2 separate regions of the Homo sapiens genome follow, and region 2 is linked to region 1. Evidence: fine-mapped expression QTL. A gene starts in region 1. The other region holds a variant in brackets. All regions are shown on one strand. Distances are from middle to middle.

Evidence for each region.
Region 2: its variant is fine-mapped to the expression of CAPN1-AS1 in whole blood (INTERVAL, PIP above 0.99).

What each region holds. Positions count from the first base shown.
Region 1 is chr11:65,171,619-65,185,776 of GRCh38, forward strand. CAPN1-AS1 (CAPN1 antisense RNA 1) reads right to left here and starts at 10,216. Exons shown (of 2, transcript NR_145677.1): 1 at 9,607-10,216; 2 at 8,253-9,454. CAPN1 (calpain 1) reads left to right here and starts at 10,310. Exons shown (of 22, transcript NM_005186.4): 1 at 10,310-10,395; 2 at 11,083-11,350; 3 at 11,510-11,579; 4 at 11,856-11,974. The coding sequence starts at 11,084. SPDYC (speedy/RINGO cell cycle regulator family member C) reads left to right here. Exons shown (of 7, transcript NM_001008778.3): 3 at 325-383; 4 at 628-713; 5 at 816-987; 6 at 1,066-1,396; 7 at 1,565-1,756. The coding sequence ends at 1,599. It also overlaps the pseudogene PGAM1P8. RefSeq lists silencers at 9,629-10,078, 10,680-10,974 and enhancers at 9,997-10,786, 10,787-11,575, 11,576-12,365, 13,549-14,115.
Region 2 is chr11:65,134,817-65,151,740 of GRCh38, forward strand. It overlaps the pseudogene HIGD1AP10 and the pseudogene RNU2-23P. Among named protein-coding and RNA genes, the nearest start is that of SYVN1, 8.8 kb to the left of the region's middle. RefSeq lists enhancers at 1-345, 1-213, 15,940-15,989 and a silencer at 199-382. The variant C/CTT (reference allele first, on the strand shown) is at 8,762.

The DNA.
Region 1 (14,158 bases):
TATCCCAGCTTAGGCAGGTGGGAGGGGTGTCCTCTCAGAAACTGGATTCAGGGCCAGGCACCGTGAGTCATACCTATAATCCCAACATTTTGGGAGGCTGAAATGGGAGTATCACTTCAGGCCAGGAGTTCAAGACCAGCCTGGTCAACATAGTGAGACTCCATTTCTATTTATATTAAGAAAGAGAGAGAGAAAGAGAAAAAGGGAGAAAAAGAGAAAGAGAGAGAGGGTTCAGTGGTGGCTTGGGCTTTGGAGCTTCTGATGCCACTCTTCTCCATGGAGGTGGTGGTAACCTGCGTCCTGTCATGTCTTCTCTACCCTCAGAGGACAGTTTTGTCCAGGAATTCCTCTCCAAAGACCCCTGCTTCCAGATTTCAGATAAGGTGAGGGAGTACAGGCTGGGGGTCTCTTGAGGGTCAGGTTGAGTTGGTGGGAATTGAGTGCCCTGGTCTGGTAGGGAGAGCCACTCACCTTCCATCCTTACCCCCTCATCTTTGCACACCACTTCCCACCATTTTACTGACTTTCTTTCCCTGCAGCAAAACCTCCCTGGGTGCAAATGAACCTGGGTGCAAGCCCCTCCTCCTCAGAGAATAACTAACCCCCCACCCCGATCTGTCTCTGCAGTATCTCCTGGCCATGGTGCTGGTCTACTTCCAGCGCGCCCACCTGAAGCTCAGCGAGTATACCCACAGCAGCCTGTTCTTGGCCCTGTGAGTGGTGGGGGCAGGCAGTGGAGGCATTTGCTGGAGGTGTCAGATGGGACAGGGCAGATGTGTGGCCTCTGCTCCCTGACCTTGTGCCTCTGTGGCTAGGTACCTTGCAAACGACATGGAGGAGGACCTGGAGGGCCCCAAATGTGAGATTTTTCCATGGGCCCTGGGAAAAGATTGGTGTTTACGAGTGGGGAAATTCCTGCACCAGAGGGATAAGCTTTGGGCACGGATGGGTTTCCGGGCTGTTGTGAGCCGCCAGTGCTGTGAGGAGGTGAGGCTGGGAGGCAACCTGGGGTGTGGGGAAGGCTGGGGTTCCCACCCCATTTACTGTCCACTCTGCTCCTCCCAGGTCATGGCAAAGGAGCCATTCCACTGGGCTTGGACTCGGGACCGGCGCCCCCACCATGGTGGGGTTCAGAGGGTCTGTCCACAGGTCCCTGTTCGCCTTCCCCGGGGCCCTGGCCTCTCGCCGCCCCACTGTTCCCCCTGTGGTTTGCCCCAGCACTGCAGCAGCCACTTGCTTAAGCCTGTGTCATCCAAGTGCCCTTCTCTGACCTCTGAATGTCATCGCCCTCCCTCCCAAAATTATCTCTCAAGGGTCAAAAACGCCTGGGGTGGGGACTTTCTCATCGTCTTGCCTCCCCAGATGCAACTGGAACCAGGCACCTACTCCCTCCGCAGTGAGTGCAGGATGGGACAGGAGCTGGGGGCTGGTGTGGGAGCTTGGGAGGCAGGAGTGAGGACCAACAATATGAGAGAGAGGGCCATGGGCCTGGGGTCGACGTGCTGCCCCTCCCGTGTGAGCTTGGCAGGTTTCTTCTCTGAGCCTCACTCTTTCCTCTCCCCAGTCTTCCCAAAGCCTCCGGCACGCCCTGGGCACTGAAGCTCTGCAGGGTGAAGAACAGCACGCCTGCTGGCCCACTGACTGACACACCATTGGCTGTGCTCCCACCCCTGCCCCTTCCTCCCAGCCTGCAGCTTGTGCCCACTCTGGTGCCAGTCCCCTCTAATAAATTCATGTCCACAGGACACCAACTGTGCTTAGGTCCTGGCCTGGTTCCTTGACCCAAGGTTGGGGTGGGGAGGGGGTATCTACCAGGGTTACAACATGTGAGCACAGGCTCTGTAACAGCTTGGCCCCTTCCCATTGGTGGCCAGTTATTCTGAGCCTCAGTTTCATCTCTGTGCTATCCATGCCTATGGATGATGAGATCTACACAGTCTAGATGGGATTAAATGAGATGAGGTATCTGCAGCCCTTAGAAGAGGGCCAGGGAGCCGAACGTGGTGGCTCACACCTGTAATCCCAGCACTTTGGGAGGCTGAGCCGGGTGGATCACTTGAGGTCAGGAGTTCAAAAACAGCCTGGCCAACATGGTGAAACCCCTTTGCTACTAAAAATACAGAAACTAGCCAGGCATGGTGGCAGGTGCCTATAATCCCAGCTACTCGGGACGCCAAGGTGGGAGAATTGCTTGAACTGTGGAGGCGGAGGTTACAGCGAGTTGAGATCATGCCACTGCACTCCAGCCTGGACGACAGAGTGAGACTCTGTCTCAAAAAAAAAAAAAAAAAAGGCCAGGAACATATTGGGAAACAAAACTTGAATGGAAGACAGCTCTTTATTTAGTCTAGAAATGCCTTCAGGGCCAGGTTTACTTAGGAATAAGACTTGATCCCTTCCTTGAGCTACAGTCAAATATAATATTGTAATTATAATAAACAACCCCCCTCCCCCAAGAGACATGAGGACTCAAAAGGGTTAATTTCTTTTTTTCTTTCTTTTTTTTTTTTTTCACATCACTCCTTTATTATACTGATCTGGAAAAAGATTTAGTACAGTTATGCTCAGATGAACACTGGACCCATGTGGCAGGGCCAAGCAAGTAGAACATGATTCAGAAATCAGTGAAAGACATACTTGGACAGGACCAAGAGGCATTTCACTGTCACGAAACAAGGCAGGAAGGGATTGTAATACCCACACCAGGAAGCACTCCTGCCCCTCAGAGGTCAAGGAGCTGATCCTATATTGGTATGAGGAATGGCTTATTTTCTGATGACTACATGTGGGACTATTTCAACCGCCACGAGAAACCCCAGAAGGGTTATTGTTTTGTATTATTTATATATACTATACTTCTTAAATTAAATGTAACACATAACTAAATTCAGGATTGATCCCAACCTTCTAGAGCCAGCTCCTCTGGCGTCAGGGAGGAAACAGTTGTCACATCACCATGCAGGTTACATTCATCTTCCACTGGAATGACTAGAGCCCTCAGGCAGTGGCCTGACTGCAGACGAGCAGAGGACTGGCTCCTGGGGACAGACAGGCTCTGTTGCTTCTCCTCATTGGTCATGGCTTAGCATGGTTCCTCCCCACAAGTCCTTAGTAAACAAAGCAACTCGCAAAAACCCAAGTCACTACTTTTAAACTCTGTTGGATAAGGGGAGCTTTTCCACAGCTTGGACTGAGAACCTGTGCTCTAGAAGTGCTATTCTGACTAGATTGTATGAAGGGAGTGGGTGCAGGAGACAAAATGGCTAAAATGAAAATGGGAGTCACTGGTCCCCATCTGCAGCTACAACTCAAGATGTCTACAGATGGGGTCAGTGTGACATGTGCAGGTGGGAGGGGCAGAGGGACAAGACAGGCAGGGAGGGTGCTCCTGGGAACAGTATCCTCCCTGCTGGCCTTCACTTCTTGGCCTTGCCCTGGGCAGCCACAGCTTCCATGGCTTTGCGTACCATCTCTTCATCCCCCAGAAACTGCATGGGCTTGATAGGCTTCAAGTTCTTGTCCCATTCATAGACAATGGGAATACCAGTCGGCAGGTTCAGCTCCATGATAGCCTCTTCAGAGAGACCCTCCAGATGCTTGGCAATGCCCCGGAGGCTGTTGCCATGGGCTGCAATCAGTACACGTTTCCCCTCCTTGATCTGGGGAACTATTTCTTCATTCCAGAAGGTCAGAGCTCTGGCAATAGTGTCCTTCAGACTCTCACAGGAGGGTAGCAGATCTTCTGTGAGGTCTGCATACCTGCGATCCTTACTGATGTTGCTATAGAAAGGATGGTTGGGCTCCATTGGAGGTGGTGGGACATCATAGGAGTGCCTCCAGATCTTCACCTGGGCCTCACCATGCTTTGCAGCAACCTCCGCCTCCCTGGTTCAAGCGATTCTCCTGCCTCAGCCTCCTGAGTAGCTGGGATTACAGATGTGCGTCACCACGCCCGGCTAATTTTTTTTTTGTATTTTTAGTAGCAACGGGGTTTCATCATGTTGGTCAGGCTGATCTTGACCTCCTGACCTCGTGATCTGCCTGCCTCGGCCTCCCAAAGTGCTGGGATTACAGGCGTGAGCCACCGCACCCAGCCGTGAGGTGCCAGATTTTTATCTTTGCCAAACTGCTAAGTGGGAAACAGTCTCTTGGTGAAATTTTAATTCACATTTGCTTTTCAGTGAGCTCAACATCTTGTCATATGTTTAAGACCTATTTGTCTTCTTTTATTTGTGAACTTTTTTTTTTTGAGACAGGGTCTTGCTTTGTCATCCAGGCTGGAATACAGTGGTGCGATCACAGCTCACTGCAGCCTCGACCTCTGGGATAGCTGGGACTACAGGCCACCATGCCCAGCTAACTTTTTGTATTTTTGGTACAGACAGGGTCTCACCGTATTGTCCAGGCTGATCTCGAACTCCTGGGCTTAAGCGATCCACCCACTTTGGCCTCCCAAAGTGCTGGGATTTACTTTTATTTTATTCTTAGAGACAGCATCTTGCTCTATTGCCCAGGCTGGAGGGAAGTGGCACAATCATAGCTCACTGCAGCCTCCAACTGCTGGGCTCAAGCCACCCTCCCATCTCAGCCTCTGGAGTAGCTGGGATGACAGGCATGCACCACCACACCTGGCTAATTTTCTAATTTTTTTATAGATGGGGTCTCATTATGTTGCCCAGGCTAGTCTCAAACTCCTAGCCTCAATCAATCCTCCTGTCTAGGCCTCCCAAAGTGTTAGGATTATAGGAATGAGCGACCACACCCAGAACATGATTTTTTATATATGTATATGGAGAAAAATACTCCTTTAAGATGTTAATTGTAAATGTTTTCTTCAGTCCATCATTTTGACATAACTGTATGGATTTTTAATGTAGTAAAAAATGCAATTTTATGACTTTTGGGTTTTGTGTCATAGTTAAAAAGACTGTTTCCACACTGAGATGATACAAAAAGTTTCTCCTTTAGCTCCTGGCTGTATTTTTTTTTTTTTTTTTTTGAGATGGAGTTTTGCTCTTGTTGCCCAGGCTGGAGTGCAATGGTGCGATCTCCACTCACCGCAACCTCCGCCTCCATCTCCCGGGTTCAAGCAATTCTTGTGCCTCAGTCTCCCAAGTAGCTGGGATTGCTGGTGTGTGCCACCATGCCCAGCTGATTTTTGTATATTTAGTAGAGATAGGGTTTCACGATGTTGGCCAGGCTGGTCTTGAACACCTGACCTCAAGTGATCCACCCACCTCAGCCTCCCAAAGTGCTAGGATTACAGGCATGAGCCACCGTGCCCAGCCAGCTTCTGGCTGTATTTTCGTTTTCATTTTTGTACGTTTAAATATTGAAGGTTAACATTTAATTTTTATTTTTATTTATTTATTTTTTTTGAGACGTTGTCTCACTCTGTCGCCGAGGCTGGAGTGCAGTGGCGCAATCTTGGCTCACTGCAAGCTCTGCCTCCTGGGTTCACGCCATTCTCCTGCCTCAGCCTCCCAAGTGGCTGGGACTACAGGCGCCCGCCACCACGCCCGGCTAATTCGTTTTGTATTTTTAGTAGAGATGGGGTTTCACCGTGTTAGCCAGGATGGTCTTGATCTCCTGACCTCGTGATCCACCTGCCTCAGCCTCCCAAAGTGCTGGGATTACAGGCATGAACCACCGCGCCTGGCCTATTTTTTATTGATTTTTTAGAGATGGAGTCTTGCTTTGTTGCCCAGGCTAGAGTGCAGCGGTGCTCACTGAGGCCTTGAACCCCTAGGCTCAAGAGAGCCTCCCACCTCAGGCTCCGAAAATGCTGGGATTACAGGTGGTGTGAGATACCACACCAGACCTAGAGTTTTTATTTTTTAATTTTTAAAAAAATTTTTATTTATTTTTTTGAGACGGAGTCTCACTCTTTTGCTCAGGCTGGAGTGAAGTGGTGCAATCTCGGCTCACTGCAACCTCCGCCCCCTGGGTTCAAACAATTCTCCTGCCTCAGCCTCCCGAGTAGCTGGGATTACAAACGCCTGCCACCCACCATGCCCAGCTTTTTTTTTTTTTTTTTTTGTATTTTTAGTAGAGACGAGGTTTCACCATATTGGCCGGGCTGGTCGTGAACTCCTGACCTCAGGTGATCCATCTACCTTGGCCTCCCAAAGTGCTAGGATTACAGGTGTTAGCCACCACACCCAGCCTTTTTAAATGTTTTTTTCATTAGGAACAACATATTCCAAACCTATAAATTGAGTTCATCTGTAATTTTTTCTAAGATACAAATTATGAATCCAACTTACTTTTTTTCCAGATTGCTCCCTTTTCTTCCTAATGTCTTTTATTAACTCATCTTTTCTCAACAGATTAGAAATGGTACTTTTATCATCTACTACATTCCTGCCTGTATTTGAATCTGTTTCTAAATTTCTCTGTCTTCTATTGATCTCTATGTGTCAGTAACCCTCTTTAATTATTACCTTTTAATGATAGATTTGTTGTGTTTTAATATCTGGTAGGATTAGTCTATACTCATTATGTCTTTTATTTTCAGAAGTTTCCTACTTGTTTAATTTGCCATATGACCTTTAAATCAGCTTTTCTAGTCCCTCCTTATCTCCCACCAGAAGACTCTTAAAATTTTTCATTGTGATACACTTAGAGATTAATTTAAGGAGAATTGACATCTATATGAAGCATCTTCATATGAAGACCAAGGTGTCAGCCCCCTTGCCTCTGCTTTTTGGTGGCTAGTGACTCCCAAATTTGTACCTCTATTTTGAGCACAAGGTCTGTTCCTCACCCCTAGGAATCTCCTCTTGGATAGGGGGATCCCAAAGATACCCCATACCCTGATCCCATACTGTCCCTCCAGCTTAGTGCATTCCCCCTTCTCTTTAATCTACTCAGGTGCTCAAGCCAGATCCAGGGTCTGAAGTTGTCTTTGGTCTCTCCTGGTGTCCAAGAGCCATATCTAACCAGTGACTAAGTTCTATTTTTTTTTTTTTTTTGAGACGGAGTTTTGCTCTTGTCGCCCAGGCTGGAGTGCAATGGTGTGATCTTGGCTCACTGCAACCTCCATCTCCTGGGTTCAAGTGATTCTCCTACCTCAGCCTCCCTAGTAGTGGGGACTACAGGAGCCCACCACCACGTCCAGCTAATTTTTGTATTTTTTAGTAGAGACAGGGTTTCGCCATATTGGCCAGGCTCGTCTCTCGAACTCCTGACCTTATGTGATCCGCCCACCTCAGCCTCCTAAAGTGCTGGGATTACAGGGGTGAGCCACTGCGCTCAGCCTGTGGTATATTTGTAATCACTGATGAACCAATATTGACACAATATTATTAATTCAAGTCCATAGTTTACATTAAGGTTCACTCTTAGTGTTGTACATTCTGCAGGTTTGGATAAATGCATGTCATGCATCCGTCATTACAGTATCATACAGAATAGTTTCGCTGTGCTAAAAATGCCCTGTGCTCCATCCCTCTCCTACCCCTCTGAATCCCTGGCAACTGCTGATCTTTTTACCATTGCTAGTTTTGCCTTTTCTAGAACGTCATATAGAGTTATTGGAATCATACAGTATGCAGCTTTTTAATACCAGCCTCTTTTACTTAGCAATATGCGTTTAAGGTTATGCTATGTCTTTTTGTAGCTTGATGGCTGATTTCTTTGTATCGCTAAATTTTAAAGAAATTGCCAAACTGTCTTCCAAAGTGGTGGTGATCATTTTACCCTCTCTTGGTGTATGACAGCTCCAGTTCTTCTATATCCTTGACAACATAACAACACTTGGTATGGTTGATCTTAACTTTTAGCCATTCTAGTAGGTGTTCTTTTAGAAGCAGTCCTTCTAGTGGCTTTAATTTGCATTTCCCTAAGAGTAATGCACTCAGTGTTTTTTAATGTGCCTATTTGCCATCCAGAGATCTTTTTGGATGAAGTGTCTGTTCAAATGTTTTGTCCATTTTTTGACAGGCGCGGTGGCTCACCCTGTAATCCCAGCACCTTGGGAGGCAGAGGCGTGCAGATCACTTGAGGTCAGGAGTTTGAGACCAGCTTGGCTAACATGGTGAAACCCTGTCTCTACTAAAAATACAAAAATTAGCCTGGTGTGGTGGCGGGCGCCTGTAATCCCAGCTACTGGGGAGGCTGAGGCAGGAGAATTGCTTGAACCCAGGAGGTGGAGGTTGCAGTGAGCCAGGATCGCGCCACTGCATTCCAACCTGGGTGATGGAGCGGGACTCCATCTCAAAAACAAAAACAAACACCAGAAAACAAACAAATGTTTTGTCCATTTTTATTGGATTTTTATTCAATTGTAAAAGTTCTTTATACAAGTCCTACATCAGATAGAATTTTTACAAATATTCGTCCTAGTCTATGGCTTATCTTTTCATTTTTAATAGTTTCGTGCATTTTGAGAAACAAAAGCGTTTTATTTTGATGAAGTTCAATTTATTGATTTCTTCTATCATTTACACTTTTTGTGTCATATTTAAGAAATCTGGCCAGGTGCCAAAGCTCACACCTGTAATCCCAGCACTTTGGGAGGCTCAGGCAGGAGGACTGCTTGAGCCCAGGAGTTCATGACCAGCCTGAGTAACACAGCAGGACCCCATTTCTACAAAAAATTTAAAAATTAGCTGTGTGTCGTGGCACGTGCCTGTAGTCTCAGCTACTCAGGAGGCTGAGGTGAGAGGATCTCTTGAGCCCAGGAGTTTAAAGTTACAGTGAGCTGTGATCAGGGCACTGCACTCCTGCCTGGTCAATGAAAGCAAGACCCTGCCTTTAGAAAAGAAAAAAGAAATCTTTTCAAACCCAATATTGTTAAGATTGTCTCCATTTTTAAAAAAAAAAGTTTTATGGTTTGGCCATTTATATTTAGGTGTGTAATCCAGTTTGAGTTAAATTTTGATGGTGTATCCTAAATAGTTATCAAATCCATCTACTTCTGCCTGCCACCTCTCTAGTTTAAACCACCCTTCTCTGTCCCTGGACACCTGCGCAGAAAGCCTAGGAGCTGGTTCCACCCATCACTCACCAGGTTAGGTATTTCAGGCAAGTCACACCCTCTCAGGCCTCAGTTTTCCTCTTTTGTTAACTGAGGGTGAAAGTGGGGTTAGATTAGATCAGCGGCTCTTAACTTTTGAGGGGTCGTGGGCCCTAGAGTCCTGGGAACGCTATGCAGTTTCCTCAGCAAAATGCTTGCATCCACAACATGCAAGACTGCAGCAGCTGCTGGGCTGGGGCTGCGAGACCAGCGAAAAGCCCTGACTTGGGGGGGTCTCGGGAGTCTCTGCAGTCTCCCCACCCACACCCCCGGCCTCCGCGCCGAATCCTGGCCCCCCAACTTCTTGCAGCCCGTGAAGCAGGATCTCAGGGTCCTGGGGGTGGGGAGAGGGGGCTGCCGTCCTGCTCGCAGCCTCTGCCGCCCTCTCCTGGGTAAGGTGACACATGGGCGCTTCCAGGTGGGTGGGCTGAGAGCCTGGGGGAGAGAACAGGGATGTCCACCTCTCTAAGTTTCCAGGTTCAAGAAACCCCAGAACGTTAGAGAAAGATGGGCTCCCACAATTGCCCAACCCCATCCCATAGGATGCACGCATGCGGAAAGTCGGGCCGAACGGGGCAGGGACTTACCCAAGGTCACGCAGCGAGCCCGGTCCCCCTGCGTTCCCCGGGGAGCGCTGAGCCGGGACGCGGCGGTGGGGTGGGGAAGGGGAGTGGCGCGGCCCTGCGGGGTGAGGCTGCCGTTTGCTGAGTGTCCGGCAGGGGTCTGCTCGCTGCCAGCCCGGCCCCTCCTCAGAGCAGCTGCCGCAGCCCGAGGTAATCTCGGCCCCGCGCCGGGGCTGGCTGGGAACGGCGGGAGCAGCTGCGGTCGCGCGGAGCGAGGGGAGCTGGGGACCGGGCGGGCCCGGGGCTGCGGGAGGCGGCGCCGCCGCACAATCGCCCCGGAATGCCCGCCAGGGCGCGCGTGGGGTGCGGCCGTCCGGCCCTGCAACTCGAGCTGCTGCCCCTGGTTAAAAATACCCCCTGCCCGGCCCTCCCCCTCCGTTCCCCGCGGTGCCCTTCCGCCGCGCCCCAGCCCCCCCATCCCCCCCCGCGCTGGCCCCTCCCCGGGGACTGCTCTGCCTTTTACTAATTTGTCCTCTCGCGGAATTGGCCCCCGGCCTGCGGAGGGAGGGGCGGGGAGACACCGTGAGTAAGAGATAGTCAGAGACCGTGCCGGAGAGATAAGGGAGAGCCGAGAGGAAGCGGGGTAGGAGCCCCAGGAGGAGGAGGAGGAGAAGGAGAGAGGGAGGGCGGAGGGCGGAGGGGCGGCGGGAGGAGGGCGGGGAGGAGCGCTCTTCCTGGTTGGGCCCTGCCCTGAGCTGCCACCGGGAAGCCAGCCTCAGGGACTGCAGCGACCCCCAAACACCCCTCCCCCAGGTAAGAAGCTGGGTAGCCGAGCCGGGATTCCTTGACCCTGGCCACTGCTCCTGGGCTGAGGGGCTGCCCCAGCACGGTCCCTTCTCGGGGGCCTCTGCGTTCCTGGAGCAGGGGTGGGGGCTGGCGGAGCGGCACAGCCCAGGCGCCTGTCCCAGCCTGGCTCACCGCTGTCCCCAGGGGCTGGGCTAGGGCCCACCAGCTCTGATATCGAGCCTGCTGCGGGGGCCTGAGGAGGGGGACCCCGACCGTCTGGGGTTTTCAGCCCACGGCAAGGGGCCGGTGCACCAGGAGCTTGGTTAGTTTGGGGAGGGGGTTGCAGGCCTGTGAACAGGATCAAAGAGGCCTTCCCTGCTGTGTCCCACCTGCCCAGTTCCTTGTGCTGTCTGGAGGCTCCGCCCTGCCCCACCTGACCTGCTGGCTCACTACAGAGCTGCAAGCCCCTGACAATGGGATCCGGGAAAGGAGAGGTGGCCGGCACGCCTGGGAACTGGGAAATCCCTTTCCTGGATTCACTGGGAGCACCGGGAGGTGGCTGAGAACCCTACTTCTGTGAGGGGAGCAGTGAGGCAGGGAAACCCTAGGTTTGGGGATGGATAAGCAGGGGCAGGAGAGCAGAGCTTGCAGGCAGGAGCCCAGGTTCTAGTCTTGGGAAGGCCTGGGTTCTGAGCAGGCCCATCTGTCCGGCAGGATGTCGGAGGAGATCATCACGCCGGTGTACTGCACTGGGGTGTCAGCCCAAGTGCAGAAGCAGCGGGCCAGGGAGCTGGGCCTGGGCCGCCATGAGAATGCCATCAAGTACCTGGGCCAGGATTATGAGCAGCTGCGGGTGCGATGCCTGCAGAGTGGGACCCTCTTCCGTGATGAGGCCTTCCCCCCGGTACCCCAGAGCCTGGGTTACAAGGACCTGGGTCCCAATTCCTCCAAGACCTATGGCATCAAGTGGAAGCGTCCCACGGTGAGAGGGGCCATCCTGGGTGGGACTCGGCTAAGCCAGATCCTGGATGAGGAGTAGGGATGGGACTCCATGTCCCTGGTGGGGAATGGGGTCTGGGGTGGCCTGGTGCCAATTTCTGGGAGGGGCTGGCCGAGGAACAGGACTCTGGGTCTCTCGTAGGAACTGCTGTCAAACCCCCAGTTCATTGTGGATGGAGCTACCCGCACAGACATCTGCCAGGGAGCACTGGGTAGGCCCCCAGGGCGTCGGGTCCCGGGTATTTTTTCCACAGTAGTTCCCCATTCCCGCTCCTTCAGGCTCTGCCCCAACCCCTCCCTCTTGCAAGCCCAGGCAGGATCTGGCTATCAGCGCTGGGGCTGGTTTGCCCAGATTCCTGGGTCTTTTCTGCAAGCTGAGGGGAGTTAAGTGGCACCCTGGCCAAGGAACCCCAGATTCTCCCTAGCACCCGCTTCCCCCCCCGGGGCAGGTTGGTAGAGCAGGCTAATGTGCATCCCTCCTGCCCCAGGGGACTGCTGGCTCTTGGCGGCCATCGCCTCCCTCACTCTCAACGACACCCTCCTGCACCGAGTGGTTCCGCACGGCCAGAGCTTCCAGAATGGCTATGCCGGCATCTTCCATTTCCAGGTGAGGGCTCCCCTGGGGAGGAGGGGCAGCAGGCACTGGGGGAGATGCGGAAGGATGACCCACAATACCTGCAGTTAGGGCCACACCCTGTGGGGCCAGCCCTCCCTCTAGCAGGTATTTGACCTCTCAGTGCCATCTCGGGTCTGTCATGTGTGAAGTGACTGGGCTGGGCAGGTATTTCGGCTGGCAGTTTTCCTAGGTGGTTGTATGTATCAGGTGGAAAGTGCTTGAAAGAACAGAAAGACTTTTGTGTTATATCCTGTGGGACAAATTCCACTCCTCCCGGAGGTCGGTCTCAGTTGCCCCATCTGAGAAAGGAGTGTTCGCTGGGGAAAACAGATCAGCACGTGTGGCCTTCTCCACGTGTCAAGCCTCCTATCCCCCAACTCCTCCTGCGCTTTGGCAAGGTCTGACTGAGCCCAGCAGAAAAGAAAGACTCGGGATTAAGTCTACGTAAACCAGCTTTTCCTGACGGTGTGCCCAGGGCCCATTTTTCAAGTCACACCAATCAATTCTCAATGAGCTGCCTTTGGGAGGGACATGCCCAGCAACCCTGGATGAGACTCTCCAGCCTTGGAGGCCCCAGCCCTGCCCGAAGGACTCTTGGGTGTTCCCTCCTTCTGCCTGGTTAGAGAGCCCCTTACCCTACTCTGTCCTTGCCCGCCTTGCGCGGGTGGAGGTGGCCCTCGGAACCCAGGGTGCGGAACCCACAGTGCGGATCCACTTTGGCCCAGCGCCACACCCACCTGCTCCAGTCTGCAGGGGCGCAGTCTCGCCCCCTTCCCTCGCTCCTCCAATCCGCTCCTCCCTGGCCTCCGATTGGCCAGTTCAGTACCCGCCACCCACACTCTCCGCAACCTGGGCTCCTAGGGCCGCCTCCACCCCGCCCCGCCCCCCGTTGTCCTGGCCCCGACCCCTCAGATGGTACCTCGAGTCCTTGGTCGCTTCTGACCCCAGACGCCTTCGGCCCCGACCCTGCCCTGGGAAACGTGGCCTTTGTGGCATCTCAGAAACAAAGCCCGTGATTGTGAGAACCAGTCCTGCCCATCTTGTGGTTGTAGGATCTGGATGCCACATTTTCACTGCTCATCCAATGACACAGGTGCCCCTAACCCCCTTGAATAGGGAGGGAAGAGCCAGGGGGCCATGGCCTAAAAGGGGGCTAGTTCCGGAAAGCCCAGGCCCCAGAGCTTTTCCACCTCTCCGTGCCTGAGGAGGAACCCTGTTTGTTCAGTGACTCCCTAAAGGCTTTGCCTGTGCTCTTGTTTAAGTCTTCCGTGAAGAAGGCACCGCTGCTCCTTTTTATGGATAGGGAAACTGAGGCTCAGAGGCGATAACTTTTCCAGGATCATGTAGCTAGTATGTCTCGAGCATACATGTACATATCAAGTATACACATGTCTATATGTGGTATGCATGTATTAGTATACAGCAAATATGCAGGTATCTAGTATACATTGTACAGGCAAAGGAAAGCATCCCCTTAGCCCTCTGAAGGTTCACTGAAAAATCAACTCACAAAAGGAGGTTAGTAGGAGAAATGGCATACAAATTGATTAGCCTGCAGCGTGGGGTCGGGAACCACAGAGTGTTCACCCCAGCCCCACAATGGGTACAGAAGCCTATATACCATCCTGAGGTTACAGGAAGAATGGGGGCTCGAACATGGCCAAAACCAGTTTCTGGTGGTAAATCAGGTTATAGTGGCAAGACAGACTATGGAAGGGGGAGAAAAGGGGGCCTGGGTAGCAAAGGCAGTCTTGTTATGTAGATGAAACCTCACAGGTAGCAGCCCTCAGAGGGAATAGATGGTAATTGTTTCGTTCAGACCTTTAAAGGGTGTCAGGCTCTCAGTCTGACAAGGGAAGGCCTTAGAGAAAGCCTGGCTACATCAATGCAGATTTTCTCTACAGATGCAAATCTCCCCCACAAAAGACAGTATTACAGGGCTACTTCTGTTTGCAGACCCTCTGAACAGCTATCTCAAAATATGTTGAAGAAGTATATTTCAGGGTGAAATACTTTGATTTCCTTCAATACCTAGATACATGTATCTAGTATATCTGTAGCATACATGTATCTAGAGGTACACATGCATCTAGTATGTATCTAGTATATGTGATTTAGTATACATGCATCTACTATGTATCTGGTATACCTGACCTAGTATACATCTAGTATGTA
Region 2 (16,924 bases), 35 kb before region 1:
GGGACTCGGCCCCGCGAGCAGCTGGGAAGGGGAGCCGCTTGCGGGCTGTACCACCTGGAGCGGGGAGTAGGCCAGGGACAGACTATACAAGCCTGAGGGGAATGAAATGTTTTCTTAAACATTTAGGGAGAGTCACAACAGTTTGACAAATACGGTGCTCTCTGAGAGAACTGGATGCGGAAAACAAAAATTTGTCTTCTCCATGATCACCCCCACAAGTTGTGTGGGAGTGAGTTGGGTCCCGTGGCTGCCACTGATTGGTTGCGATAAGTTACGCGGCCCAATAAGAAAAAGAATGTACCTTTGCTGGCCTATAGAAAGGGGAAAGCAGGTGAGTGGTTGTTAGGGGCGGACAGCTGCGTTGCCTAGGCCCTGGTCCCGCTCCAGTTGGCTGAGAGTAGGGAAAGCTCAGTCCTTGGGCGAGTGATCCCTGGCTGGCCTCCGGGAACGTTTGCCGCGCCAGGACAGGGAGGGACAACCAGGTGTACCCGAGACTGGGAGATTAATTCCTGCTAATCTTGGGACGGAAGTGTTCTGTTTGTTCAAAGGAATTGACTTCAGCGTCGCAGGCCTGCCCGCATCTCAGTGTCTGATTTTGCTGCCCATGTGTTGTTCAGCTCTGAGCCATAAGCAAGACCCCCACTGGTCCTGGGCTGCACTGTATTTTAGTTCGTGTCTGGGTCGCAGCCAACTAAGCCTGCTGATTAACAAAATGGAGCTAATGCATCCACTTTGTGCCTTGCGTTTTCCTCCGTCATCTCATTTAATCATCAATCACTAAGGTTTATGAGCTAGGGGGTGCTACCCCCTCCCCCGAAACGTGGGGCAATTGAAATTCAAAGGCTTACCAAAACCTGTCCTAGGATTGGCGCCAGGTCTGTCTGCCTCTAAATCTCTGTGCTGTTGGTCTCAGCCATCTTCCCTGCCACCTGTTGACTTGACAGTTTCAGCTTATAACCAGTCAGAGTTGGCTTCCCCGTAAGGCCACGTATAACTTTTTTTCCCCCTTTTCTTTTTATTTATTTATTTATTAATTTTTGCGACAGGGTCTTGCTCTGTCGCCCAGGCTGGAGTGCATTGGCGCCATCAGGGCTCATTGCAGCCTCGACCTCCCGGGCTCAAGCGATCCTCCCACCTCAGCCCCACAAGGTGTTGGGATTACAGGCGTGAGCCACAACACCTTGCCTATCTGTAACTTTCTAGTGACTGCATCCAATGGTTGGCTTTCAGCCCTTGCTTGACTCAACCTCTCTCCCCTTCTTGAAAGTCTCCTCCCTAAGCTTCTGTGATCCACATGCCTCTGCTCCTCTTTTCTCTCTGGCTATGCATGTGTCCTCTTCTCTTTACCTGATGTCCTTCTCTTTACTTTTCCTGCATGATTTCCTCTGCTCCAGTCCAGCCCCTGACCCAGGTGCTGATGATTTCCTTGTGTGGTCTCCAGCCGGGATCTATCCTGCTTTTAAAACAGTTCAGTGTCCCTAGACACTGTCTGCACCCCAGCTCCGGAAACGGGCATCATGCTCACTATCTGCCCCCACATCCAAACTGGTAATTAAGTCATTTATTCAGTTAGTCTACAAATATGGATCAAGTGTCTCCTGTTCTAGGGACTTAGGATGTCAGTGAACAAAATAAAGATCTCTACCTTTGTGGAGCTTATCCTAGTAGATGTGACAGCAAACCACAGACATAAGTGAAAAATCTAATACGCTGGAAGATGATCAGTGCTATAGGAAAAAAGTAGAACAGAATAAAGGGGATCAGGATGTGGTGGGGTACTTGAAGCTGGTTGCAGTATCAGCGAGGATAATCGGGTAAGCTTCCTTGAGAAGGTGACATTTGAGCAAAGACTTAAAGGAAGTGAGGTTATGAGCCAAGTGGATGTCTGGGTAAAGAGTTACAGCTCAATAAAGGTGGAGCAGTGCTGCTTTGTTGAAGGAGATGAGTGTGGCTATAGTGGAACTAGTGAAGGGTGCGTAGGAAAGAGGCCAGGGCAAGATCGCATTGGCCATCACAGGGACCTTGGCTTTTCCTCTGAGTGACGTGAGAAGTCATTGGAGGGTGCTGAGCAGAGGTGTGACATGCTCTGACTTAGGTGTAATAAAGTCACTCCAGGCTGGGTGTGGTGGCTGACCCTGTAATCCCAGCACTTTGGGATGCCAAGGCGGTTGGATCACGAGGTGAGGAGATCGAGACCATCGTGGCTAACACGGTGAAACCCCGTCTCTGATAAAAAAACACAAAAATTGGCCGAGCTTGGTGGCGGGCGTCTGTAGTCCCAGCTACTCCGGAGGCTGATGCAGGAGAATGGCGTGAACCTGGGAGGCGGAGCTTGCAGTGAGCTGAGATCGTGCCACTGCACTCCAGCCTGGGCAACAGAGCGAGACTCAGTCTCAAAAAAAACTAAAAAAAAAAAAAAAAAAGTCACTCCAGCTCCTGTGTTGGAATAATCTGTAGTGGGGAGGAAGGCAAGTGTGGGAGCAGGGAAACCAGTTAGGAGGCTCTTGCGGTGCAATAGGCAAGAGAGGACATCCTGTGGGTTCTACCTCCTGAGTGTCTCTAGAATTCATTCTTTCCTTGCCATTTTCACTGCCAGTGTCCTAGTCCAGACCATCATCATCTCATGCCTGGGAAAATGCAACAGTCCCCTTTCCTGTGCTTTCCTCCTCATCCGTTTTCCATAGAACGGCCAGAGAGATCTCCTGACACCTGAGCTCACGTCTTGCCTTCCCTCCCACACTCTGCCCTTCAGGCATAATGCCCAGTTGTGGGGTCTCAGGTGTACCATCCCTACCATGCCCCAGGCAGGCCCATCACCTTTTGCATATGTCTTTCCTTCTCCCAGGAACGTCTTTCTCCTCAAATATCACAAAAAGCATTGCCTACTTCCTCAGGCTGGGGTGGAGTGCATGCCATCATGGCAGGCTAATTAAAAAGAATTTTTTTTGTAGCTACAAGGTCTTGCTATCAGGCCCAGGCTGCTTTTGAACTCCTGGGCTCAAGCGATCCTCCTGACTTGGCCTCCCAAAGTATTGGGATTACAGGCATGAGCCACCATGCCTCGACAAAAAGCAGTTGTACTTCTAAGTACTAACAATAAGCAATCAGAAATTGAAAATTTCAAAATACTATTTACATAGCTTCAAAAAATCAAATGTTTGGCCAGTCACGGTGGCTCACGCCTGTAATCCCAGCACTTTGGGAGGCTGAGGCGGGCAGATCACTTGAGGTCAGGAGTTTGAGACCAGCCTGGCCAACACGGTGAAACCCCTTCTCTACTAAAAATACAAAACTAGCCAGGCGTGGCCGGGCGTGGTGGCTCATGCCTATAATCCCAGCACTTTGGGAGGCTGAGGCGGGCGGATCATGAGGTCAAGAGATCGAGACCATCCTTGCTAACACGGTGAAACCCCGTCTCTACTAAAAATACCAAAAAAATTAGCCGGGCATGGTGGCAGGCGCCTGTAGTCCCAGCTACTTGGGAGGCTGAGGCAGGAGAATGGCGTGAATCCAGGAGGCAGAGCTGGCAGTGAGCCGAGACCGCACCACTATACTCCAGCCTCAGTGACAGAGCAAGACTCCATCTCAAAAAACAAAACAAAACAAAACAAAACAAAACAAAACACAAAACTAGCCGGGCGTGGTGGCATGCGCCTGTAATCCCAGCTACTCAGGAGGCTGAGGCAGGAGAATCACTTGAAACCAGAAGACAGAGGTTGCAGCGAGCTGAGATTGCGCCACTGCACTCCAGCCTGGGTGAAAGAATGAAACTCCATCTCAAAAAAAAAAGCAAATGTTTAATAATAAAATATAATCAAAGATGTGCAAGACCTGTACACTGAAAAGTATAAAACATTGCTGAAAGTAAAGATCCAATAAATGGAGAGATATACTATATCCATGGATCAGAGCACTCCATACTCCTATGATGTCAATTTCCCCCAAATTGATTTATAGGGTTAATGCCATTCCAATCAAAATCTCAGTAGGCATTTTTAAAAAATTGATGCTGATTCTAAAATATGTGAAAATTCAAAAGACCTATAATATCCAAGACAACCTTGCAAAGTATAAACAAAGTTGGAGAACTTATACTACCTGATTTTAAGACTTATTATAGGCTGGGCGTAGTGGCTCATGCCTATAATCCCAGCATTTTGGGAGGCTGATGTGGGCGGATCACCTGAGGTCAAGAGTTTGAGACCAGCCTGGCCAACATGGTAAAACCCTGTCTCTACTAAAAATACAAAAATTCGCTGGGCGTGTTGGTGCGCGCCTGTAATGCCAGCTACGCACCTCTAATCCTAGCTACGCGGGAGGGTGAGGCAGAAGAATCACTTGAACCCTGGGGGCAGAGGTTGCAGTGAGCCAAGATCCCACCATTGCACTCTAGCCTGGGTGATAAAATGAGACTCTGTCTCAAAAAAAAAAAATAAAAAAGACTACTATAAAGCTACAGTGATTAAGACAGTGTGGTTTTTGGTGTAAAGATACACATGTAGGTTAGTGAAACAGAATGCAGTCCGGAAATAGAATAACATTTATATTCATTTTCTTTTTTTTTTTTGAGACGGAATCTCGCTCTGTCGCCTAGGCTGGAGTGCAGTGGAACCATCTCCGCTCACTGCAAGCTCCGCCTCCCGAGTTCTCGCCATTCTCCTGCCTCAGCCTCCCGAGTAGCTGGGACTACAGGCGCCCACCACCACGCCTGGCAAATTTTTTGTATTTTTAGTAGAGACGGGGTTTCACCGTATTAGCCAGGATGGTCTCAATCTCCTGACCTCATGATCTGCCTGCCTCGGCCTCCCAAAGTGCTGGAATTACAGGCGTGAGCTACCGCGCCCCGCAATATATTGATTTTCAATATAGGTAACAAGGCAATTCAATGGTGAAAGATGATTTTTCTTTCTTTTTTTTTTTTTTTTTGAGACAGAGTCTTGCTCTGTCACCCAGGCTGGAGTGCAGTGGTGTGATTTTGGCTCACTGAAACCTCCACCTCCTGGGGTTCAAGCATTTCTCCTGCCTCAGCCTCCCAAGTAGCTGGGATTACAGGCGCGTGTCACCACACCCGGCTAATTTTTGTATTTTTAGTAGAAACGGGGTTTCACCATGTTTGTCAGGCTGATCTCGAACTCCTGACCTCAGGTGATTCGCCTGCCTCAGTCTCCCAAATTGCTGGGATTACAGGCATGAGCCACCATGCCCGGCCGAAAGATGATTTTTCAACAAAAGTGCTGAAATAATTGGATATCCATATGAAAACAAAAAACCTCATTCCCTACCTTGCATCGTATACAACACTTAACTTGAAATGAACCGTAGGTCTAAATGTAAAACATAAAACTGTAATATCTCTAGAAGAAAACAAAAAAATCTTAGTAATGTTGGGTTAGGCAAAAATGTCTTAAATAGGATACAAATAGCATAAACTATCAAAGAAACAAATTGATAAATTGGATTTAATCCTAACTAAACACTTTATCTGTTCAAATGACAGTTAAAGGGAGAAAAATTGGGAGAAAATATTTGCCAAGCGTATATCTGACAAAGGACTCATATTGAGAATACATATTATAACTTACTAATAAAAAAATGAAAAGCTAATACAAAATGGGCCAACATTTTGAGCAGACATTTAATCAAAGGTATTCAGATGAGAATAATCCCATAAAATGTGCTCAACACCATCATTATTAGATAAATTCATTGAAAGCAATGCCATACTATTAGTACTAGAATAGTTAAATTAAAAAGATGTCATACAAAGTGGTGGTAATGATGTGGAACACCTAGAATTATCTTAGATTGCAGGTGGGAATACAAAACGGTATAGCCATATTGAAAAAAGGTTCGGTAATTTCTTATAAAGTTAAGTATACATTTACCATATGACCCAGCAATTCCGTTCTTAAGTTACCCAAGATAAATGCAAATATATGTTCATAGAACTAGTGACAGAGAGCATCTCAAGTAGTTGCCAGGGACAGAGGCTAGGGGAGAGGACAGATTGCTCTATGGCACAAGCAAACTTTTTGGATAGTGGAAACATTCTCTATATCATGGTAGTGGTGGTAATTACCTGACTTATACATGTTTGTTAAAGCACACCAAATTGTGTAAGTGACTAATCTTATTGTATGTTAAAACTGGCAAATCTTATTGTATTAACATACAATTATATCTCAGTTAAGTTGACATAAAAGTTGTTGAAAGCAAACTTACATTTTGACCTGGATTTTCCCCTTTCAGGAATCTATCTTGTTGAAGAGCTTGTACATGACCCCAAAGATTTTAAGTCCAAGGATGATTGCCACAGCATTGTTTGAAATAGTGAAACAAGACAATAGAACCACATATCCATTAGGGAGAGAATGGTTAGGTCTGTCTTTTAAATTTTTATTTGTTCGTTTGTTTACTGTATTTTTTGTAGAGTCAGAGTCTTGCCATGTTGCGCAGGCTGGTCTCCAACTCCTGAGCTCAAGCAATCCTCTCAGCCTTGGCAACATAGTGAGACCCCCCTCCTACAAAAAATAAATTATCCAGGTGTGGTGGCTGTAGTCTCAGCTACTCAAGAGGCTGTGGTGGGAGGATTGCTCAAGCCCAGGAGTTCAAGGCTGCAGTGAGCTATGATCCTAAGATCATGCCACTGCACTCCAGCCAGAGTGACAGAGAGAGACCCTATCTCTAAAAGAAAGAAAAAGAAAAGAAAATGGTTAATAAGCACAAAAAAATATGTTAAACATCACTGGTCATTATGGAGATGTAAATCAAAACCATAGAGAGATGATTTCATACCCACTAAAATCATTGTGATAAAAAAAAGACCAACAATAACAAGTGTTGGCAAGATGTGGAGAAATTGGCACCCTTATGTGTTTCTGGTGGGAATGTAAAATAGTGTAAATGCTTTGGAAAACAGTTTGGCAGTTCTTCAGTAAATTAAACATAAAATTACCATATGACCCAGAAATTCTACTTCTAGGTATATGTTCAAGAGAACTGAAAGCATCTGGTCATACAAACACTTGTACAAGAACATTCGTAGCAGCATTATTCATAATAGCCAAAAAGTACAAACAACCCAAATGTCCATGAATGGCTAAACAAAATGTAATGTACCCACACAATGGAGTATTATTTAGCCATAAACAGGAAGGAAGTACTGCTTCATGCTACAACATTGATGAACCTTGAAAACCCTGTGCTCAGTGAAAAAAGCATTCATATCACTGCACTTACGTTACATGTCCAGAATAGACAAGTCCATACAGACAGAAGTAGTTAGTGGTTGCCAAGGGCTGGTGGCGTGAGGAATGGGGCCTGACTGCTAATTGGTATGGGGTTTATTATTTGAGGAGTGATAAAAATGTTCCTGAGGAGATAGTGGCTATGCTTGCACAATTTTGTGAGTATACTAAAAATGACCGAATTGTACACTTTATTTATTTTGAGACACAGTCTCGCTCTGTTGCGAAAGCTGTAGTGCAGTGGCGCGATCATGGCTCACTGCAGCCTGGAACTCCTGGGGTCAAGTGATCCTGCCACCTCAGCCTCCCAAGTGGCTGACATTACAGGCAAATGCCATCATGCCTGGCTAACTTTTTTATTTTTAGTAGAGACAGAGTCTCACTCTGTTGCCCAGGCTGGTTTTGAACTCCTGACCTCAAGTGATCCTTCCGCCTCAACCTCCCAAAATGCTGGGATTCAAATGTGAGCCACCACACCTGGCTGAATTGTACACTTTAAAATAATGAATTGTGGTATGTTAATTACATCAATAAAATAGGTAAGGAAGTAACAAAGACAAAATAGAAATTAAGAAAATAGAGGACAGGCGCAATGGCTCACGCCTGTAATCCCAGCACTTTAGGAGCCTGAGGCAGGCGAATCATGAGATCAGGAGTTTGAGAAGAGCCTGGCCAACATGGTGAAACCCTGTCTCTACTAAAAATACAAAAAATTAGCTGGGCGTGGTGGGGGGGCACCTGTAATCCCATCTACTTGGAAGGCTGAGGCAGGAGAATCACTTGAATCTGGGAGGCAGAGGTTGCAGTGACCTGAGATCGCGCCATTGTACTCCAGCCTGGGCAACAATGCGAGACTCTGTCTAAAAAAAAAAAAAAGAAAAGAAAAAAGAAAATAGATAAAGCTAAAATAGAATACACAAAGTTGAAAGCTGGCTCTTTGAATAAACTAATAAGAATGACAAATCTCCAGAGAGACTGGTCAAGAAAATAAGGTTTGCACAAGCAGACAATATAATGAATGAAAACAGCAATAAACAGACACAGCAGAAATTTAAAAATAATGAGCATGCAGTAGGTGCAATTTTATGGCAATAAATTTGAAAATTTAGGAGAAATAGACAATTTCCTAGAAAATAAAAGATGCACTAAAACTGACCTAAGACACAACAGAAAACATGAATTGATAAGTATTTTAAAATTTTATTTTATTTTTGAGATGGAGTCTTGCTCTGCCGCCCAGGCTGGAGTACAGTGGCGTGACCTCGGCTCACTGTAACCTCCACCTCCTGGGTTCAAGCGATTCTCCTGCCTCAGCCTCCCAAGTAGCTGGGACTACAGGCGCCTGCCACCACACACAGCTAATTTTTTGTATTTTTAGTAGAGACAGGGTTTCACCATGTTGGCCAGGATGGTCACCATGTTGGCCAGGATGGTCTCCATCTCTTGACCTCGTGATCCACCCGCCTCGGCCTCCCAAAGTGCTGGGATTACAGGTGTGAGCCACCATGCCCAGG[C/CTT]TTTTTTTTTTTTTTTTTTTTGAGACAGTGTCTTGCTCTATCACCCAAGCTGCTGGAATGCAGTGGCATGATCAGGGCTCGCTGCAGCCTCAAACTCCTGGGTTCAAGTGATCTTCCCACCTCAGCCCTGCAGAGTAGCTGGGACTACAGGCATGCGCCACTGTGCCTGGCTAATTTTTGTATTTTTTGTAGATATGGGGTTTTGCCATGTTACCCTGGCTGGTCTCAAACTCCTTGGCTCACGCGATCCACCTGCCTTGGCCTTGCAAAGTGTTGAGATTACAGTCATGAGCTGCTGCGTTCGGCTTAAAAGTTTTTCAACATTTTTGACAACAACATCTGGATTCTCACATTCTCCCTCCATGAAAGAGAAAATGAGGAACTATTCTCTCTCTTCCATGGTGGAACACTCCAGGTACTCCCAGCCTGGAAGGCCAGACCCTCCAACTTTCCCTGAATGACCCCCTCACCAAGAAGTGTGCATTGAATGTGGGACTGACCACACATGAGGTCAGTTTGTTGGTCTATCTAGACTGCCTTTGGACTTCCCTTGCCTCTGATCTCATTCCTTTAATTAACAAACATTTACTGAGGGCCTACTGTGTTCAGGCCCCAGGCCAGGTTCTGAGGACATTGTGGAGAACAAAATACATTCCCTGACCTCATGGAGCTTTCAGTCTCATGGTAGAGAGATCCACAAGCTAATTGCAGGTTATTTGACTGTCTGCTGAATGAATGCATTAGTGGAAGAATGAATGAGTAAAAGCTACATTGTCCAAATTCCTGTCCTGTCAGAATTGATGTTGACGTTCTTTTTTTTTTTTTTTTTTGAGATGGTCACTTACTTTAACAACAGTACATATACCATGTTATCACCATGAAATGTAAATTCAGGTTAGACAAGAAAATTTCACAAATGTAATAACATTCTATAGTTTATAAAAGTTTGGGTATACTGTCTGGCCAAACCAGCTTGCTCATAAGTCATTAATCAATTCCATTATAGGTAATTTGATTAGTTTAATGTTTGTAATTCTTATGGAAAAAATAAGCAATGCACACATTTAAAAAGTGCTCATTGGGCTGGGCACGGTAGCTCATGCCCGTAATCCCAGCACTTTGAGTGGCTGAGGCCCAGCGGATCACGAGGTCAAGATCGAGACCATCCTGGACAACATGGCGAAACCCTGTCTTTATTAAAAATATAAAAATTAGCCAAGGATGGTGGTGTGCACCTGTAGTCCCAGCTACTCAGGAGGCTGAGACAGGAGAAGTGCTTGAACCCGGGAGATGGAGGTTGCAGTGAGCTGAGATCACACCACTGCACTCCAGCCTGGTGACAGAGCGTGACTCCGTCTCAAAAAAAATAAAATAAAAGGTGCTCATTTACCTTTGCATGAGTGCTTAAATACATATTTCTATCTCAAGATGACATTTAAAAATTATTCAGATATAACAGCAGCAAAAATATAATTCTGCAATTACAAAATAACTAAACTAGAATCCATAAGTTATTCTCATGTTCACAACTGTGATTCTTTAATAAATACCACTACTATGCAGCTATAATGTAAGCTTTCTAGATTTGGTTTAAACACACACACATAGATACTGTCAGTTGTGGGAAGCTTTACAAGTTTTATTCCATGCACTTTTTAGACAGAGTTCTGAAAGAGCCAGCCAGTCCACAAGACAGGCAGAAAAAAAGTTAAATTAACTAGGGCAAATAGGACTCTTATATAACATCCGAAACATGTGAGATCCTGCAGCAAACTGGGAGTACTTCAGGGTTGGCTTGTTATATCCTTTAGAACTTAAGTTCATCTTCACAATTGAAGAAGGTGGACATTTCAACACCATCTAGTGCATTTAGGTGACATGTTTCTTTTATGCTAACTTGATTTCCTTGAATGACCTAGTTAGTAAACTAGTCACTAGTAATTAAGTCACCAGGCAAATCAAGCCTGCAAGAAAGGAAGCCAATATTCAAAATGCTGTGTTACCATCTAAACCCACTCAAATAGTTTATTTTCCACAATAACACATAACTTCAATAATGAGATGTCTAACTAAAGCAAGCTCCTCCAACAAGACCAAGACAGCATCTCTTCTTCTAGGGCTTAGGTTTTGCCCAGAATTCTCGATACATGGAATAGCCCATACCAATAGTCATTGCTCCTACAACAAAGCCTTGGGCTGCCACACGCATGTGGATCAGATGAAGGGACATTTGCGTATTTCCCCTGCTCTTCAATTTGTATAATCCATATGTAACAAGTGCTGCAAAACCTGCTATTCCAACGGGTACCAATGGTGTCTCTTTAGCTTTACGAATAAGTTTGGATCCCTGAGCTTCGTCATATGAAGAAAGGGAAACATCTGTGTCTGTTGATATAATGACTGCTTGAAGAATCTCCCGGCTGGGCGCGGTGGCTCATTCCTGTAATCCCAGCACTTTGGGAGGCTGAAGCGGGCGGATCACGAGGTCAGGAGATCGAGACCACCCTGGCCAACATGGTGAAACCCCGTCTCCACTAAAAATACAAAAATTAGCTGGGCATGGTGGTGCCGGCCTGTAGTCCCAGCTACTTGGCAGGCTGAAGCAGGAGAATAGCTTGAACCCAGGATGTGGAGGTTGCAGTGAGCCGAGATTGCACCATTGCACTCCAGCCTGGGCGACAGAGCGAGACTCCATCTCAAAAAAAAAAAAAGGAAGAAGAAGAAAACCTCTCACACCTGATGTCAACATTCTTTTAGTTAACATTTAACATGTTTTTCTTGAGTGCCAAGTATGTGACAGATTTAGAGCAAGGGTTTTTACAGGGCATACAATGTAACACCCTGTCTTTCCCTGACCAAGTTTAGTACCATCTGAAAAACAGACACATAGGATAGAGATAAAAATGTTACTTCTGTAACCAATAGAGTTGTTGAGAAAATGCATTTGAAGTCCCTGTACCCGTCCCAGAGCTGCACAGACTTACCCACTCTGCTCCCAAAGGTTTCTCCTTCTTTTGATGTAGGGTAGGCAAGCCCCCAAATTGGGGCTTAGCCCGGGAGGGTTCTTGGCTTTGTCCAGGAAATAATTCCAGGGTGAGCCAGTGCTGTTAGACAGACACTTTTAGTGAAGTGGCAGTGCACAGCAGCAGCAGATGTACTGTTCCTTGCACACCAGGGCTACCCCGAGTAGCAGCTCAGAGGTAGTTCTGCAGTCATATTTATACCCACTTTTAATTATATGCAAATTAAGGAGAAGATTATGCAGAAATTTCTAAAAATAAGGTGGTAACTTCTGAGTCGTTTGGTCATTAACACAGAAAGAGGCAGTAACTTCCAGGTGTTACCATGGCAATGGTAAACTGACATGGCACACTGGTGGGTGTGTCTTATGGAAAGCTGCCTCCACCCCATCCCTGTTTTAGCAAGTCCTCAATTTGGTCTGGTGTCCCAGCCCCACCTCCAGAATTGAGACCTGCCTCCTACCTCACTTTGGGTCCCATACATAGTTGCTTCTAACAACTTCACCAAGAAAACTCTCTTTTCTACTTCTTGGGAGGGGTGAGTGAGAGAAAGTGGGACAAGGCCACTTTTCTGCAGTGTTAGTTACTCCAGAAAAGGTCCACCATGTGGAAACAGATATAATGAGAAATAATCCTTAGTTTGTGTTAATCAAACCCAGTCAGTTATCCAACCAGTCAATTCCTCAATCCAAGCAGCATGAAACTGCACTCCTAGTTAGGTTTGTGGATTATAAATGCTCATAAATTCCTTATCCCGTCCCTCATGGAAAGGTGGGGTTTACTTCTCCACCCCCTTAATTCTGGACTTGGCCTATGACTTGCTTTGAACCAGTAGAATATGGTGGAAATGAAGCTGTGCCCAATTCTGGGCTTACCCTTTAAAACAGAACTGGCAGCTTCTGTTTTCTTCTCTTGGAATTCAGCCACCATGCTGTGAGGAAGCCCAAGCAGTCCTGTGGGGAGGCCCATGTAGAGGAGAATCAAAGCTCCATTCTCAGCCTTTTGGGTAAGATCAAGTGTAGTATCTGTTCTTATCAGTTTAATATCTGATATGTCCTCTATTCGAGGACACAATCTATATTAAATAGATTTTTGGAACTAAGAGATGGAATAGGAGCTTGCCCCACCCACTCCACACATTTACCTAGCATTGCAGTACCTCCAGGAACAGTGTACCCCTAAAGGGAGATAAAGTTTAAAAATGAAAAAAATAGGGAATAAAAAGCTCTAGCCCTACCATCCAATTGGCTGGGGGAATTTAAATAAATAAATAAATAAATAAATAAATAAATAAATAAATAGCTCTAGCCAGCATCAACTTGCCAGCCATTGGAGTGCACCATCTTTGAAGGGTCCTCCAGCTCCAAGGATGGAGCTGGAGGCACAAGAAGAGCTGTCTCAACCAGGCCTTGCCCAAATTGCATAATGGTAAGAAAATAAATGATTGGTATTGTCATAAGCCTCTAGGTTTGAGAGTGGCTTGTTTCACAGCCCTAATCTAATTTGACTCCCTGTTCTTGGCCCCAGACCCAGGGCCTGCCACAGAATAAGAACTCAGGGAGTGTTGAAGAAGTGAGTCAACAAATGATTGGGCTGAGCGTGGTGGCTCACGCCTGTAATCCCAGCACTTTGGGAGGCCGAGGCAGGTGGATCATCTGAGTGAGGTCAGGAGTTCAAGACCAGCCTGGCCAACAGGATGAAACCCCATATCTACTAGAAATATAAAAATTAGCCAGGTATGGTGATGCGTGCCTGTAATCCCAGCTACTCAGGAGGCTGAGGCAGAAGAATCACTTGAACCCAGGAAGTCGAGGTTGCAGTGAGCCAAGATAGCGCCACTGCACTCCAGCCTGGCTGACAGAGTTAGACTCTGTCTCAAAAAAAAAAAAAAAAAAAAAAAAAAAAAAAAAAAAAAAAAAAAAAAAAGACTGGATTGGCTAAGTGGATGATGGATGATTGAATGGTTGGATAAGTGAATTGTGTTAAGCCTGACAGGTCTAGAGTGATGAGCTGTGGCAGAATCAGGGGCTCAGAGTCCAGTAGCTTCAAGGAGGATGAGAAGCCATCTCTGCTGGAATTGTTATAAATAATTTCCTGGGAAGGGTCCCTGGCAGATCTACTTGGAGTGGCATTGTCACAGGCAGTGCATACTCAGCTGCTCAGGTGAGACACTAACTGCAAGCCCAGAATCTGGAAAGCTCCACAGTGCAGTGGGCCCAGCCTTACTATCCCTGCTGGAACCACACCAGCAGAAGGAGTGCCCGAGGGCTGCTACCTGTCTCCCTCGACTCCACTTAGTTCCAAATGTAAGTCTCACATGATTGAAACTGTGGAAGGAGGCTGGGTGCGGTTGCTCTCACCTATAATCCCTGCACTTTGGGAGGCCAAGGGGGCGGATCACCTGAAGTCGGGAGTTCAAGACCAGCCTGACCAACATGAAGAAACCCCATCTTTACTAAAAATAAAAAACTAGCCAGGCATGGTGGCACATGCCTGTAATCCCAGCTACTTGGGGGGCTGAGGCAGGAGAATCACTTGAACCCAGGAGACAGAGATTGCAGTGAGCCGAGATCACACCACTGCACCCCAGCCTGGGGAGCAAGAGTGAAACTCAGTCTTTTAAAAAAAAAAAAAAAACCAGAAGGAATATATGTAACTCAAGTTTTGTGTGGTTTTTTTTTTTTTTTTTTTTTTTTTTTTTTTTTTTTTTTTACCGTTCCAGCCTCTGTGGTCCAGGCAGCCAGCTGGGAGAAGGCTGAGACAGATGCTCAGTGACAAGTGTGAGCTTGCTAATCTGACAAAGGCCTTTCTAAGGGGGCATTTGGATTTCTGCATGATATGCTTCCAGCCTGCCTCCTAACCCCACCAAATCCTCATCATGCACTTTGTTATTTATTTATTTTTGAGACGGAGTCTCACTCTTGTCGACCACGCTAGAGTGCAGTGGTGTGATCTCGACTTACAACAACTTCCGCCTCCTGGGTTTAAGCAATTCTCCTGCCTCAGCCTCCTGAGTAGCTGGGATTACAGGCACCTGCCACCATGCCCAGTTAATTTTTGTATTTTTAGTAGAGATGGGATTTCATATGTTGGCCAGGCTGGTCTCGAACTCCTGACCTCAGGTGATCCACCCACCTCAGCCTCCCAAAGTCTGGGACTACAGGCATGAGCCACCTTACCCGGCCCTCATCATGCACTTTGTATTGTGGTCAAACTTAACTTGTCTCATTCCCCAAACTCTGCTTGCCTCTTCAGCCTAGCTATCTTCACTTTTGCTCAAACCTATATAAAGTAGCATGCTTTTCCCTTTCTTCTTTGTCTGGAAAATTCTTAGTGCACACCCTTACACATTTCCAGCATCAGCCATGAACCTGAGTGAGTCTCTCCCCACCACATGGTGCCTACAGCATTTGTCCCTGTGTGAACACAGCCCCTATGACCCTGCATTGTAATCACTTCTGTGTCTGTGACATCCTTCAGGGCAGGGCTGAGAATAATAAATGTTGGGCAGTTACAGTTTTAACCTTTATGTCAATCCTGAGTCAGGTACTATTATCATATCGGTTTCATAGATGAAGAAACTGAGGCTCAGAGAGATTAAGTAACTTGCCTGAGGTTTGCCCAACTAATAGGGAAAGACAAAGTCAAGATTTAAGCCCAGGTCGGGTGCGGTGCCTCACGCCTGTAATCCCGGCACTTTGAGAGGGCAAGGGTGGGGGGATCACCTGAGGTCGGGAGTTCGAGACCAGCCTGGGCAACATGGTGAAATCCCATCTCTACTAAAAATACAAAAATTAGCCAGGCATTGGGGGTGGGTGCCTGTAGTCCCAGCTACTCGGAAGGCTGAGGCATGAGAATTGCTTGAATCCAGGAGACGGAGGTTGCAGTGAGCCAAGACTGCGCTACTGCACTCCAGCCTGGGTGACGGAGCGAGATTCCTTCTCAAAAAAAAAAAAAAAAAAGACTTAAGCCCAGACAGGGTGGCCCCATGGCCCTTCTCTCAACCCCCGCGCTTTGTAACAGGTCCATTTTCTCATCCCCATGGCAACTAGTCATTTTATTACTGAGAAAACAGATATTCTTGAGGTTACAGAAAGGAAGAAAAATAAGAAAAGAAAACAGATGTTCGAAGAGGCTAAGAAAGTCAGCCAGAGTCACCCTGCTGGCGTGTGGCCGGGAGGCACTCTATCTACTTCTCTGACACTGCGCTGCACCTCCAGTGAGGGCCTGTGGTGACTTCTTCCTCCTATTGAAGCAGTGTCTCGGGGCTGAGTCATTCCCAACAGTTTCTGTGCAAAGCCAGGGAACAGCCACCTCAGGCCCCTTGGCAGGCTGCCACCCTAGGCAGTTGTCTCGAGTCTGGGTGTCCTCGGAGGGCAGAGCAGGGACAGGAGGCTGATGTCCCCTCCCTCTGCCAGGGCACGGGCAGCCAGGCAGTGAGGCCACATTAGGACTCAATTCAGGCTGGCCTGAGCATCTGAGAAAGGGAAGTAGGATAGAGGGGCAGGCTGGGGACAGATCCATGGGCAACATGGATCACCCAAGACTAGTACAAAGAAAGGGGCTGGGGCACTAAGGTACAGATTGGGCAATCAGCACACAGTATGTGCCAGGTGCAGGGCTGGGTGCTGGGATTCCAGGGTGAGCAAAAAGACACCTACCCTCATGAGACTCCTGCCCAGTGCAGGAAATTCAGGGCACATACCTTTTCTCCTACCGCTCACACCTGCTCCTCCTGCCTCCTCATTTTTCCTTCCAGCTAGAATGGGTGGAGTTTCCCTCTTCCCATTCATTCACTCTATTATTCACCCAAGTATTTATCCAGTGCCCACCTTGAACCAGGTCTTGTTCTAAGTGTCATGAATGTATTAGCAAATGAAATAGAAAAAAGTCCCTTCCCTTATGAAGCTTACAGAATACTAAAGACAAAAAATAAACCAGGAAGCACGTAGAGAAGTGTAGAGAAGTGATGACTTTGAGAAATCAAGAAGGAAGAGGAGTCGAGCAGAAGAGGAGGACCCAGAAGCTTTGAAAGGAAGAGAGAGGTTGGGCATGGTGGCTCATGCCTATGATTCTAGCACTTTGGGAGGCTGAGGTGGGAGGATCACCTGATCCCAGGAGTTTGAGACCAGCCTGGGCAACA